Linked DNA regions of Homo sapiens. The protein of the gene in region 1 purifies or fractionates together with the protein of each later gene. This does not show direct contact. Each region holds a gene or a part of one and is shown in the gene's direction. Other genes may lie near its edges.

Region 1 (6,904 bases):
GGCTAATTTTTGTATTTTTAGTAGAGACAGGGTTTCACCATGTTCCTTAGGCTGGTCTCAAACTCCTGACCTCAGGTGATCCACCCTCCTCAGCCTCCCAAAATGCTGGGATTACAAGTATGAGCCACCGCACCCAGCCTATTCTTTTCTTAAAGGAGGAGGCCTTCCCTTCCTCAGGCAAGTAATTGCTGACTACTCCAGCCTACATAACGTCCAGACATATCCAAATCTGTGGAGAACACAAAGTTCTTAAGGTATTTATTTAGAGTCAATAATCAAAGTAAAACTAATAATTATAGCTAATATTTAGTTTGTAGTTAATATATGCTAGGAGCTCGAGCTAAGCACTACCATCCCAGGAAACTGAGGCTTAAAACACTTTTAAAATTTGCTCAAGCTCACAAGCTTGGAATTGAAGAAGAAAGCAATTGAATATTGGTCTTTCTTCTATCATACATCCAGAGGCTCTGCACTTAATCAATACAACATACTGTCTCTTATTGCACAAGTAACTACAAGGTTCATCTGTAAAATTCTATTCTGTAGAATAGAAGGGAAAACAAATTAAGGAATTACAGATGTTTATTCTTCTGAGCTTTAATTTAACGTATTGTTTGATTCAAATAATTTATATATTAGCTATCTATTGCCACATAACATAATACCTCAAAATTTACCATTTTAAAACAACCAACATTCATTATTTCTCAGAGTTTCTGAGGATCAGGAATCTGGGAGCCACTTAACTGAGTGGTTCTGGTCCAGAAGACTCTCATGAAGTTGCAGTCAAGCTGTCAGTAGTCATCTCGACACCCAACTGATGCTGAAGGAGCTACTTCCAAGCTCACTCAAGGTTGTTGGTGGGCCTCAGTTCCTCATTAAATGTTGGCTAGAGACTTCATTCCTTGACATCACATGGACCCCTCAAAGGGCTGCTTATAACATGACAGCTTGCTTGTCTCTGAGCAAGAGAAAGGGAAAAGAACACCCATGATGGACATCTTTTATAATGTAATTACCCAAGTGATATAAGTATCATCACTAATGCTGTATGCTTTTGGTCACATAGACCAATCCTGGTACAGGGATCATTCATTGGGTGCCATCTTGGAGGCAAGCTACCACATCTGCCAGGGTATGAATGCATTTAATCTAAAGTTCTAGCCCTGAACTGTAGGGTTATCTACCATATAAATCAGTTTTACATTTTTTAATATGTAAAATAGGAACATCCCAATTCAGAATATTGCAGGATAAAGGGCCTCAGGTAACTGATTAAGATTCTAAGCTCTCTTTCTCTTTTAAAAGATGAAATTTAAGGCTGGGTATGGTGGCTCCTACCTATAATCCCAGTACTTTGGGAGGCCAAGACGGGGGGATCACTTGAGGTCAGGAATTTGAGACCAGCTTGGCCAAAATGGCAAAACCCTGTCTCTACCAAAAATACAAAAAAAATAGCTGGGTGTAGCGGCGCGTGGCTGTAGTCCCAGGCACTTGGAAGGCTCAGGTGGGAGGATTGCTTGAGCCCAGGAGGTTGAGGCTGCAGTGAGCCAAGACCACCTCACTGCACTCCAGCCTGGGTGACAGAAGGAGACCCTGTCTCAAAAAAAAAATGCAATTTAAATAGTAATGGCATTCAGATAGTAATCACAGTGCACCTGGAACTGGACGGCACCATCTTAGGTTGCTCTCTGCTTTGCGCATGTGGACAAGCCATCTATGACAAATAGTTTCTTTTCTTCCTAAGGATATGCAGCTTCTTTTGTAGTATACTGCATTGTTTTCAGTCCCTTTCAGGAATGTTATCTGATGCCCAACTGATATTTCTCAAATGTTAAAATAAGACTTCTTCATCTTGTTTGGTCTGGACAGAGGTCAACATTCTTCTCATAAAAGCTTTCATTTCTTTTGAAGCATTAAAATAATATTTTAGCACACAAAAAAGGAGTTTATTTTCAAGAAGCTTTGCTTTCTTTTTCAGTTAGTTCTAGATAAGAACTATAACTTCACATAAGATGTTAGAAGGATTTAAGTACATTGCTGAAGGTATAACCATCCATCTTCAGGAAGTAAGAATAGTGAATAGTAAGTATAAAGAAACAAACAAGTCCTGTGATAACATCTTTATCATAATTTTTTTAAGTCTATTATGCTTTATGCAAATGTTTAGATTTCCTTGTTAAAAATCTGCTGGCCAGGTTAGGTTCCCTTTCTGTAGCTTTATTTTCAACTCATAATATAGTGACTATTAAATATTCTTTACTCAACACATTATATTGTAAAAATATACACTTAGTTCTGTTTCTATCACTAAGCCACTACTATTTTAAAAAGGAATATCTTGCATTGTTAAGTTTAGCAGCCCAAATTCTTAAAGGCCTTAGGAATGGTGCTGTCCAATAAGATAACCAATAGCTACATGTGGCTACTGAGCACTTAAAAAATGAGTCTGGCCAGGCATAGTGGCTCACGTCTGTAATTCAGCATTTTGGGAGGCTGAGGTGGGAGGATTGCTTAAACCCAGGAGTCTGAGACCAGCCTGGGCAACACAGGGATGCCTTGTCTCTGTAAAATAAAAAAAATAAAAAAATTAGCTGGGCACGGTGGCATGTGCCTGTAGTCCTAGCTACTCAGCAGGCTGAGGCAGGAGGCCCACTTAAGCTTAGGAGTTCAGGGCTGCGGTGAGCTATGATTGTGCCACTGCACTCTAGCCTGGGTGACACAGTGGGACCGTGTCTCCAATAAATAAATGAATAAATAAATATTAAAAAATAAAAAGTGTGGCTAGTCCAAATTGAAATGTGCTGTAAAATACACACTGGATTCCTTTTTTTTTTTTTTTCAAATCCTGAGAACCTGTGAAACACACTGAATTCTTAAGATTTAGTATGAGGAGGGGAAAAAAAGATCAATGATTTACATATAACAATGTAAAATATCAATAATTTCTATATTGATTATATGATGAAATGATCATGTTCTGGATATACTTGATTAAATATACCATTAAAGTTAATTTCATCTTTTATTTTTACTTTTTAAATATGCAGCATTGCCCAATAAAATACAGGACAACCAGTTACATTTTTATTTTATATATTCCTGCTTGGGACATAATATTTAAAAATTATTCATTCTATATCTGAAATTCAAATTTAACTAGGAGTCCTATATTTTTATTTGCTAAATCTGGCAATTTTATTAATATGGCTACTAGAAAAGTTAACATAACAAATGTAGCTCCTTATCCTATGGAACATTGCTGCTTTAGAATCACCTCGCTGCTTTTTTTTTTTTTCCAGTTAGCTTCTGAATAAACTCTGCACGGAAATAACTAATCTGTGGGGAATATTTAACCCTAGGCTAGGATCGTTAATCGTGAAGTTAAATTTTTACATCTGCATGAACAAAATGGCTTGTTACAGACGAAAATGTGGAAAGGGCATCTGGACTAGAATGAAAAGTCATAGCTCCCAGCCTCTCTACTAGGGTAGTTAACAGTCCCAGGTTCAAAATAATCCCCGTCCCTCTTATAAGATTAGGCGGTGTCAAGAGCAACTATCTGTGAGACCCTGGGCCAGTGACTTTCTCCTTACCTCCGCCCCCAAGTAGGCCTTGCAAAAAGCTGGGAGGGGTGCGTTTTCAACACTGGAGCTTCGCGGCCGCTCTCCCACTCGCTCCCCGCCCGGCGCTAGAGGAGCGAGTTCGGACTCGGACCCCAAGGCCTCGAGTCCCGCTGCCTTCCTAAGCCGAGCCCGGGCTACCTCGGTCGTCCCCAGCAGGCTTGGCTGGCAGAGGCCGGGCCTCGCCAGGTCCCCAGGACAGGCCCCGCCCGGGCCTCAGGTGCACTCCCGGCCCGCCCCGCGCCCTCGCGTCCCGCCCCAGCTCCGCCTTCGCCGGCGCCGCTCTGCCTGCCAGCGGGGCGCGCCTTGCGGCCCAGGCCCGCAACCTTCCCTGGTCGTGCGCCCTATGTAAGGCCAGCCGCGGCAGGACCAAGGCGGCGGTGTCAGCTCGCGAGCCTACCCTCCGCGGACGGTCTTGGGTCGCCTGCTGCCTGGCTTGCCTGGTCGGCGGCGGGTGCCCCGCGCGCACGCGCAAAGCCCGCCGCGTTCCCCGACCCCAGGCCGCGCTCTGTGGGCCTCTGAGGGCGGCATGCGGGACTACGACGAGGTGACCGCCTTCCTGGGCGAGTGGGGGCCCTTCCAGCGCCTCATCTTCTTCCTGCTCAGCGCCAGCATCATCCCCAATGGCTTCACCGGCCTGTCCTCCGTGTTCCTGATAGCGACCCCGGAGCACCGCTGCCGGGTGCCGGACGCCGCGAACCTGAGCAGCGCCTGGCGCAACCACACTGTCCCACTGCGGCTGCGGGACGGCCGCGAGGTGCCCCACAGCTGCCGCCGCTACCGGCTCGCCACCATCGCCAACTTCTCGGCGCTTGGGCTGGAGCCGGGGCGCGACGTGGACCTGGGGCAGCTGGAGCAGGAGAGCTGTCTGGATGGCTGGGAGTTCAGTCAGGACGTCTACCTGTCCACCATTGTGACCGAGGTGGGTGCCGGCCCCTGCTGGGGCTGAGACCAGGGCTCGGAGGACCTGTCGCGGTCCTTGAACCCGAGCTCCTCTCTCCCAGATGCGCACTGGACGCTGTCACTCCCCCTCCCCCAACGGTCAACACCCTAGCGATGGAGACCCTCCAGCCAGGTGGCTTGGGAACGCTTCACGAGGTGACCTCCAGCCACAGTGTGCTCCTCCCTGCACAGGTGGTCAGTCTGGCCTCCCGTCCTGATGGCCACTTTGAAGAGGGTACCAGGAAGGTCCTGGCGGTCCCTGGGCGATGCTCTATGGCCCTGTGTGTCCAGGACTTACTCTAGTTGGGGTTGGGGGTGGTAAGTAGCAGAGCCAGGACTTGGGCCAGGGGCTATCCCGTTTTTCCTCTAGTCTCTTGATTTCTTTTTAGAAGAGAAGAAATACTTCTCTTTCCTGAACTTTTAAAAGTTAAATAAAGCATGTGTATACAACTGCCTCTTCCCTTTTTCCTCTAGTTACTCCTTCCCCTACCGTCCACAACCCAAAAACGACAATCTGGTCATGCCCTGTAAGTAATTGTTTGCCTTTTCCCATGGTCAGTTGTCAGTCTTTTTTTTTTTTGAGACAGAGTCTCCCTCTGTCACCAGGCTGGAGCGCAGTCGTGTGTTCTTGGCTCACTGCAACCTTCGCAGTCGTGCGTTCTTGGCTCACTGCAATCTTCGCCTTCCGGGCTCAAGTGATTCTCCTGCCTCAGTCTCCGAGTAGCTGTGAGCCACGACGCCCAGCTAATTTTTGTGTTTTTAGTAGAGACGGGGTTTCACCGTGTTGGCCAGGATGGTCTCGATCTCTTGACCTCGTGATCTGCCTGCTTCTGCCTCCAAAGCTGGGATTACAACCGTGAGCCACCACGCCAGGCCGTCAGTTGTCACTCTTTAAGATCCATTCATCTGAAGATGGGTTCAGGGTGACTTGTTGACCTGGAATATTTTCTCAGGTATTATGAGGCAAGGCTGTCGGCCAGATTTAGTTAAAGCATACAGCCTTAGGTCATAGGGTGTAGGGGAGCCTTTCTCATTTCTCATCCCCTTGGATTTTCCCTCTGGGTGGTTTTGTCTGTCCCCTCCGAACCTGTTGGAGCAGTTGTTGGAGCTGGATGTAGGAACATGATGTTAATGATGTATGTGTTTTGTGTCTTTTTTAGACACTGGCACTCTAGCTCCCTGAAGTTTCAGCAGCATTGAGTAAGTAGCCAGTGAATAGCCCTCATTGATAGATAGGCTCACTAAATGTGCAGATGACCAATTCGCAGGTTAGAGAAGGCTTCCCAGAAGAGGAGGCCTCTCCGTGAGCCTAGGGTGTTCAGCTCAGCATAATAGTGAGCTGAAGGCCCCAGTGCAGCAGCAAGAAACCACCCAGCAGGACGGCGGAGTTCACAGAGAGGGGAGAGTTCATAGAGAGGGAGAGTGCCACAGGCCCTGGCACAGCTTCAAGCCCTGCTGGATGTTGGTGCTGAGCCTCCCCTCCTGGAGCCTCAGAGGGGCTTACAGGGGCTCTGGAGATCCCAACTGTGTTGCTTCTTGGCGTCATCACCCTTCAATGGAGTCTGAGAGCTACCCTGGGAGATCCAAGTGTGTGTGCATGTGTGTGTTTTTTCTTTTTGGAAATTTGATGTCCCCAGCATTTGGACCTGCTTTCTCCACATATATGTAGTGGGAGTGTGACCGGAGCCCCACTGGGATTTCTTAGCTAGTGACATAGCTTCAGTGTCCAGAGGCATCATGGCTTGACAAAAGAGGCACTCCTTGGAGGTAGCCAACTGTGCTTTCTGGCCCATGAATCCACAGGAAATTGGAACCTTCAGTTGCCACAAATCCTGGGTCCTAGCCTCACAGGTGGGTGTGTTACCTTCCCGGAAGCCAGTGAGTACTATGAAAGCAGAGGCTGTCCCTGAGGTTGCAGGCAGAGGCCACAGAGGGGAACATGACACAGGAATCCCTACAAATTCTACTTGGGGCTGCCTAAAGAAGAGGGAAGTAGTGAAGCAAGAAGAAGCACATGGCATCTCTTGGAGTTTTACATTGACCCCTGAGGGTTCCCCGGCTTACTCTAGTCACTTGTTCCTGCTTTGCTGCCTCCATCCCACATTGGGCTGAGTGATGGTGGCATTGATGAGCTCCCAAAGGCCAGCTGTGCCAGGGGGTCTGACCTTATCTTGCTGCCAATGTCAGCCTTTTGTTTTTTAATATTTAGACTATTTATTTAGCTGTCTTAGCAGTTTCAAAGGAGTTATGTGCCCTTTCACCTACTTATATGTTGTCAGTCTTTGCAGGGAGGCCAGATTAATGCTTAGATCTTTGTTTTGGGCTACTGGAATGCTTGA
Region 2 (7,025 bases), about 89 Mb from region 1:
TGGATTGCCCGTGTCCTCACATGGCATAGAGAGAGTATGACAGCATGAGCAAGCTCTCGTTTTATCTTCTTATAAGAGCACTGATCCCATCATGAGGGCCCCATTCTCATGACCTCATCTAAACCTGATTATTTTCCAAAGGCCCCATCTCCAAATGCCATCACATTGAGAGTTAAGGCTTCAACATATGAATTTGGTGGGGAAACCCAGACATTTCAATCCATAATTCAGGCAGATATTTGGGAAGTAACACAGTTGAAGCACTGAATGCTATATTTCGTACTATCTAAAGAATCTAGGATGTAATAAATTTAAGATGCTTCATTGCCAATTAAATTAAGATACAATGCTTTTTTGATTACTTAGAATTTTTTAAAGAGCTCTTTTAGAGTTAGACATAGATTTTTGTCATATGTCACTTGCACATTCAATAAGATGGAAAACACAAGTGAAAAAACACATAAGGAATTGCTAAATTTCACATATTTAGAGTCTGCCTTCTGAATTGTTTTTGGAGTCAGAGTTGTTAATACCTGTAATTTTCCGTTAAACATCCTCTGTGCCGCCAAGAGAATTGGTGATGTAGCATTCCTTTCAAGATCCCAAAAAAGAATGCGAAGGTTTTGGTGCTGGCCTTCAGCTTTGCAATTATGCAAAGCCAGCCTACTTTGACTGCTGCTTAGGGATTCCCCATCTTCTACTTCCTTCCCAGTCCATTTGGTTCCTAGAGGGTGAAATGAATGCTCCAGTATCATTTCTGGGAATTTCTTTCAGGCTGTTGACTGTCATATGCAAATGTCATGCTGGCAGTTTTGTTATTTTCCCATGTGTAAGCAATGACAACATCATAATTGGCTTCTGTCTGATAGCAATTGTAAGAGGAATCCCAATTTCTGAAATGTTACCCAAAAAAGTGACTTTAATTGACGAAGTATGATGATGTAGAAGGATAGGCAAGAAATGCAAAAGGTAATTTAGAAAGGTTTCATGGGTAAAATGTGACCTATGTGATCTAGGGCTATAAAGGATTTCAATAAGCAGAAGCACGAGGTGGGTTGTTGAAGAAAGCACTAAATGTTTTTGGATAAAGAATATAATAATTTGAGAGTAAAGGGTAGAGGGAGGGTTATGTAGGTAAGTAGTTGTAAGATGGGGAAAGATTGGGTAGTATTTAGCATTTATCCTTAATGTTGACTTCAGTGTAGTTCTCTTTGTGTGTTTTCTAGTATAAACTGCATACATGAAAGTTAAGAATCTTGTGTTAAGTCCCATATAGGAAGGAAGTAGATAGGAAAACCAAACTGGAAAAATGTATGGAGATGTTGGTGAAATGACAGGAACGAAAGCAGCTTGTCTGAGCTTGATCTCTTCACTTCCTCAGTGGTGGTTCTGAGCGCTGGTTTGGCTGAACTCCACTTACCAGGGAAAAGGGCATAAAGTAAACAGGGTTTGTGTGGAAGAAGTGGAGTAGAACAAAGTGGAGAGGATCTCTGTTCATTTAGTGTATCTGACAGTGTGCTTGTCAAGTCATAAAACACTTGAGGATGGAAATCTGGAAGTCATTGTATACATTTTCTTCTTTCCCTAACATCTAGTCAGTTACAGTTTCTGCCAGTTCTTTTGCTTTTTCCATGTTTTTGGAGGCTGTTCCTCTTCGCTCCACATGTAGTAAATGCTCTAGTTCATGACCCATGTCTTATCTGGACTGCCATGTCAGCTTCCTAACTCATCCATTCACAGCACCAGTGACTGTAAAACAGCATTAGTGAGGATAAAACAGTGGCTGTCAAACTTTTTTGACTGTGGCCCCCAGTAAAAATACACTTTGTATTGCAACTTATGTATACTTTATATATGTATGAATAATTAAAACAAAAGGTTGATTCAAGAAAAATCTTTACATTTACCCTGTGCCATGCAATCTTATATCTTGTATTCTTTTCTGTTTCATTTTTTTAAATGTGTGCTTGCCATCCACTAAATTGATTCCGGAGTTGGAAAAACACTGACCTGACAACTAATATCACCATGTTATTCCTTAAACTCTCCGATGGCTTCTTACTATCTTCATGATAAATTTGAAGCCCTCAACATCAGCATACCAGAACCTTCATGACCTAACCCTTACCTAGTTATTCTAATCTATTATTTACCTGATCCACTCAGCTCACATTTCATTCCAATAGACAAGTAAAGTTTTTTGTAATTCCTTGTAGCTTGCCTTTCTTCATGGTGTCCACTCTGTTGAAAATCTACTACCCTCCATTTCTTCAGTGCTTTACTGCTTACTCCTACCCATTCCTGGGGCTCAAGTCAGGCCCCTATAACCAGGATGCTTTTCCTAACACTCCTTGCCCTACCACCAGGCTGGGTTAGGTAGTTCTCCATTATATAATGTGGTTCTCAATGTTGTTACCTGTTTATTATTATGTGTTTTTCTCTTATTGTCCCATAAAATAGTGAATATTCGAGAGGATAAGGAAGTCTCCCATTAAGCATCCCTAATGTTTAGTATGTAACATGTTGGCATTGGTTGGATGAATGAGAAAAAAAAAAGATTCTTCTGTTTGGAAGGAAGATACAACTGGTATCCCTTAAGTCTTTTCTTTTTTTTTTTTTTTTTTCCTTTCTCTATAGACAAGGTCTCACCATCACCCAGGCTGGAGTGCAGTGGTGCAATCACAGCTCACTACACCCTTGTACTCCTGGGCTCAAGTGATCCTGCTACCTCAGCCTCCCTAGTAGCTGGGACTGCAGGCATGCACCACCATGCTCAGCTCATTTTAAAAAAATTTTTTTTGTTGAGACAGAGTCTTGCTATGTTGCCTAGGCTGGTCTTGAACTCCTGGGCTCAAGTGATCCTCCTGCCTCAGCCTCCCAGAGTGCTAGGATTATAGGCATGATCCACTGCACCTGGCCCCTTAAGACCTTTAATTGCAGAGCAGCAGAGGACAAATGACATAAATACAGGATTTGACTTTCATTTTTAAGTATCAAATTAGTGATGGGTTGACAAACAAGTCATACAGAATGTTCATGAATCAGTTCGGCCCAGGTAACTCATAACCCAAGACCTTTGGGTCAATGAAATTCTGCCACCTAAGTAGCACCATCCAATGATGTCATACCTAAAAAGGAAATTGAGTTGTAGAATTTTAGGTTTTAGGATTCTTTCTCTAAAACTGAGGAGCTGTGCCACTCTTCAAAGCCTCACAATTACATTTCATTGGTTCTTATGCCATCTGGGTTCTGGTTAGAGGGCTGATGGAAGTACTCAAGAAATATTGGAAGTACTCAAGAAATATTAGAAGGTGGGAAGAAGGTACCTCTCTTGTTCTTGTCAGTGGCAGCACCAACAGTGGGACTTTGGGTCTCTGGGTTCCAGCTCAGCAGCAGAGGTACTAGTACTGTAGCTCCAGCAGCTTCAGCAGGAGTGCAGGCTCATGGGATCAGAGAACCACCTTTTCCGCTTTGTTCTTCCAGCCCAGCCAACAAGTTTGTAGCTATTTCCCTGCATTAAAACTCCCCTCTGTTTGAAATATCTATAGTAATTTTTCTTTTCCTGACTAATACAACCTGTTAAAGAAGCTGAAGCTCTGGTAAGTTAAATGCCCAACAATGGTCTTGAGTAGCTAGTGATTTTTGTTGCTATTGGTAAGTAAATCTAGACACTACTTTTTAGTCCCTTTTTTAAAAGAGGACTGGTTTATCTATGATGAATACATGATTGATTGATTGATTGATTGATTGATTTTTACTTTTTCTTTTTTTTTTTTTGAGACGGAGTCTTGCTCTGTCACCCAGGCTGGAGTGCAGTAACATGATCTCTGCTCACTGCAAGCTCCTCCTCCCGGGTTCACGCCATTCTCCTGCCTCAGCCTCCTGAGTAGCTGGGGCTACAGGCATCTGCCACCACGCCCGGCTAATTCTTTTGTATTTTTAGTAGAGACGGGGTTTCACCATGTTAGCCAGGATGGTCTCGATCTCCTGACCTTGTGATCCGCCTGCCTCAGCCTCCCAAAGTGCTGAGATTACAGGCATGAGCCACCACGCCCGGCCTAATTTATTAAAACTTTCGGGTGGTCAGGTAATTCTGATTTGTCAGCCATATTTCTAAATTATCATTGTATTTTATCTTACAGTTCTTTACAATGTAGAAAATCTTATTTGAGTGTTGTTTACCTCTAATAATCATGTTTTAAATCTAGAGATGCCCAATTTTGAATAAAATGGAAGCCTTTCTAAAAGACTATAATTTTAAATGATAATATTCCATTCATATAATAATTGCTACTTCACATGTACACAATTGAGTGCCCTAAATACTAAACTTAAAGAAACTAATACTTCAGGTGATTGCTAAACTCTTAATATCTATTTCTCAATTTCAAAGTTGAAAACCAGCAACTTATAACCTAAAACAATTTTTTTTCTGTTTCTCCTTTCTAAAGCTCTTTCACCATGCCTGGATCACTTCCTTTGAATGCAGAAGCTTGCTGGCCAAAAGATGTGGGAATTGTTGCCCTTGAGATCTATTTTCCTTCTCAATATGTTGATCAAGCAGAGTTGGAAAAATATGATGGTGTAGATGCTGGAAAGTATACCATTGGCTTGGGCCAGGCCAAGATGGGCTTCTGCACAGATAGAGAAGATATTAACTCTCTTTGCATGACTGTGGTTCAGAATCTTATGGAGAGAAATAACCTTTCCTATGATTGCATTGGGCGGCTGGAAGTTGGAACAGAGACAATCATCGACAAATCAAAGTCTGTGAAGACTAATTTGATGCAGCTGTTTGAAGAGTCTGGGAATACAGATATAGAAGGAATCGACACAACTAATGCATGCTATGGAGGCACAGCTGCTGTCTTCAATGCTGTTAACTGGATTGAGTCCAGCTCTTGGGATGGTATGTTACATGCCTATTCCCCGCCGTCCCCCAAAATTTTTTTCTAAGGTTCAATAGACCCAGATGACACTTTAATTAATGCAATACGCAAACTTTTGTAATTTGTCCTTGTTTGGATATATTAAGAAAGATATTTTACCTGTCTGTCATTATCCGAATTGTGAATTGGTTATCTTATCTTGTAGGACAAATGGTCTATTCAAAATTTAGTCAGATGGATGACAGAGCCTTGGCAGATGAATTTTAAAAAAAAATTAGAGCATTTTCTTTCTTTATCAAAGAAGGGAAAAGCATATTCTGGGGAAAATATAACAGACTTCAGTTTCCATGTTTGGTTATAGTGTTGAATTCCTTCTTGTGAAATAACAAAAAATATTTTTCAGGACGGTATGCCCTGGTAGTTGCAGGAGATATTGCTGTATATGCCACAGGAAATGCTAGACCTACAGGTGGAGTTGGAGCAGTAGCTCTGCTAATTGGGCCAAATGCTCCTTTAATTTTTGAACGAGGTAAGTGCTTGGGAAAGCATTTTTGTTTTTTTTAGCACAATATGCTGAGAAATTTGAAAATAGAAGTAGGAGCTGTCGCTTACTTAATGGTCATTAAATGCAGGTACTACTTGCTAAGAGCTTTATGTGTGTTATCATATTTATGTTTTTTTTTCTTTTTTTTTTTTTTTGAGACCGAGTTTCACTCTTGTTGCCCAAGCTGGAGTGCAATGGCACGATCTCGGCTCACTGCAACCTCTGCCCCCAGGTTCAAGTGATTCTCCTGCCTCAGCCTCCTGAGTAGCTGGGATTGCAGGCACACACCACCATGCCTGGCTAATTTTTTGTATTTTTAGTAACAGGGTTTCACCATGTTAGCCAGGCTGGCATCGAATTCCTGACCTCAGGTGATCCGCCCCCCTCAACCTCCCAAAGTGCTGGGATTACAGGCGTAAGCCACCATGCCTGGCCTGTATTTAATCTTCATAGCAGTTTTATGAGGTAGGTGGTGTCATCCCCACTTTACAGAGAAGTGGGTTAATGTAGGGTTCAAATGATAAATAGTAACTTGCTGATAGTCACTGGCAATTTTAATTTGTCTTCAGTGTAGTAGAGTAACTGTGAACTGTTAGAGTTATGAAACTGACATGGAAAGTTGTATACCAAAGGAGTCTTAGGACTGTCCATGGATACTGTTATGTATCATTTCACTTATATTGGCTTCAGCTTGCGATTTCTCTACTGTAAGTGGTGAGAATTGATCAGATAGTTAAGGAAGGTCCTTAGATAATGCAGTATACTTATTAACATACAGACATCAAGAAGCAGAAATATATAGACATCTTCCTTTTTGGTTCTAATAGGGCTTCGTGGGACACATATGCAACATGCCTATGATTTTTACAAGCCTGATATGCTATCTGAATATCCTATAGTAGATGGAAAACTCTCCATACAGTGCTACCTCAGTGCATTAGACCGCTGCTATTCTGTCTACTGCAAAAAGATCCATGCCCAGTGGCAGAAAGGTAAGTTTTACCCATTTTCCTTGGTTTTGGTATGAGTTGAGAGCAGTCTAATGTACTAGGTATCTTTGGTAGGCAACTACTTTGTGGGCATTCTTCATTTAATATCCTTTTACCATTAATTCCTCATTCACCAAACAACATTTTCCCATAGTTTCTGGGAAAGTGTAATTTACTAGAAGAGGTAAACTTTGGAACTGAGGTGTATCTCTGCAAAAATATTTAGGTCGGTTTACCCCTTGTAAGAAAATCAAAGTGGAGAAAAGAAGGTAAGTTGAATTTTGTTCATCTTTTGAGAGAGGTATTTTAACAAGGTTTTGGACTACAGCTGTGATTCAGGGAAAGCTAATGAAAATGAATTACTAAAGTGATCTTACCCCAAAAATAATCTTTTTGCACTTGACCTGTGAATTTGTATTTGTTTTTTTACTGTTATCATTAATCTGGAAATTTGTTGAGGCACTGAAAGGACAGTATTTGAGTTAATGCTATCATAACACATTATTACATAAAGTATACTTTTTCTGTAGTCCAACTTTGCTTTTTAGAGGTTATGAGAAGGGGTTAAAAATCATATTCAATGACAAATATCAGTGAATTTAG

What was found. Proteins that work in one complex are often made in the same cells at the same time.
Region 2: the proteins of SLC22A5 (region 1) and HMGCS1 purify together in Homo sapiens (affinity purification with mass spectrometry; 2 studies listed by BioGRID and IntAct, with this or other methods). This does not show direct contact.

What each region holds. Positions count from the first base shown.
Region 1 is NC_000005.10:132,365,821-132,372,724, forward strand, and holds the start of SLC22A5 (organic cation/carnitine transporter 2), read left to right. Parts: upstream 1-3,889; 5' UTR 3,890-4,152; coding exon 4,153-4,545; intron 4,546-6,904. UniProt on the Homo sapiens protein: Sodium-ion dependent, high affinity carnitine transporter. Involved in the active cellular uptake of carnitine. Transports one sodium ion with one molecule of carnitine.
Region 2 is NC_000005.10:43,296,402-43,303,426, reverse strand, and holds part of HMGCS1 (hydroxymethylglutaryl-CoA synthase, cytoplasmic), read left to right. Parts: intron 1-4,451; 5' UTR 4,452-4,461; coding exon 4,462-4,909; intron 4,910-5,292; coding exon 5,293-5,418; intron 5,419-6,260; coding exon 6,261-6,425; intron 6,426-7,025. UniProt on the Homo sapiens protein: Catalyzes the condensation of acetyl-CoA with acetoacetyl-CoA to form HMG-CoA, which is converted by HMG-CoA reductase (HMGCR) into mevalonate, a precursor for cholesterol synthesis.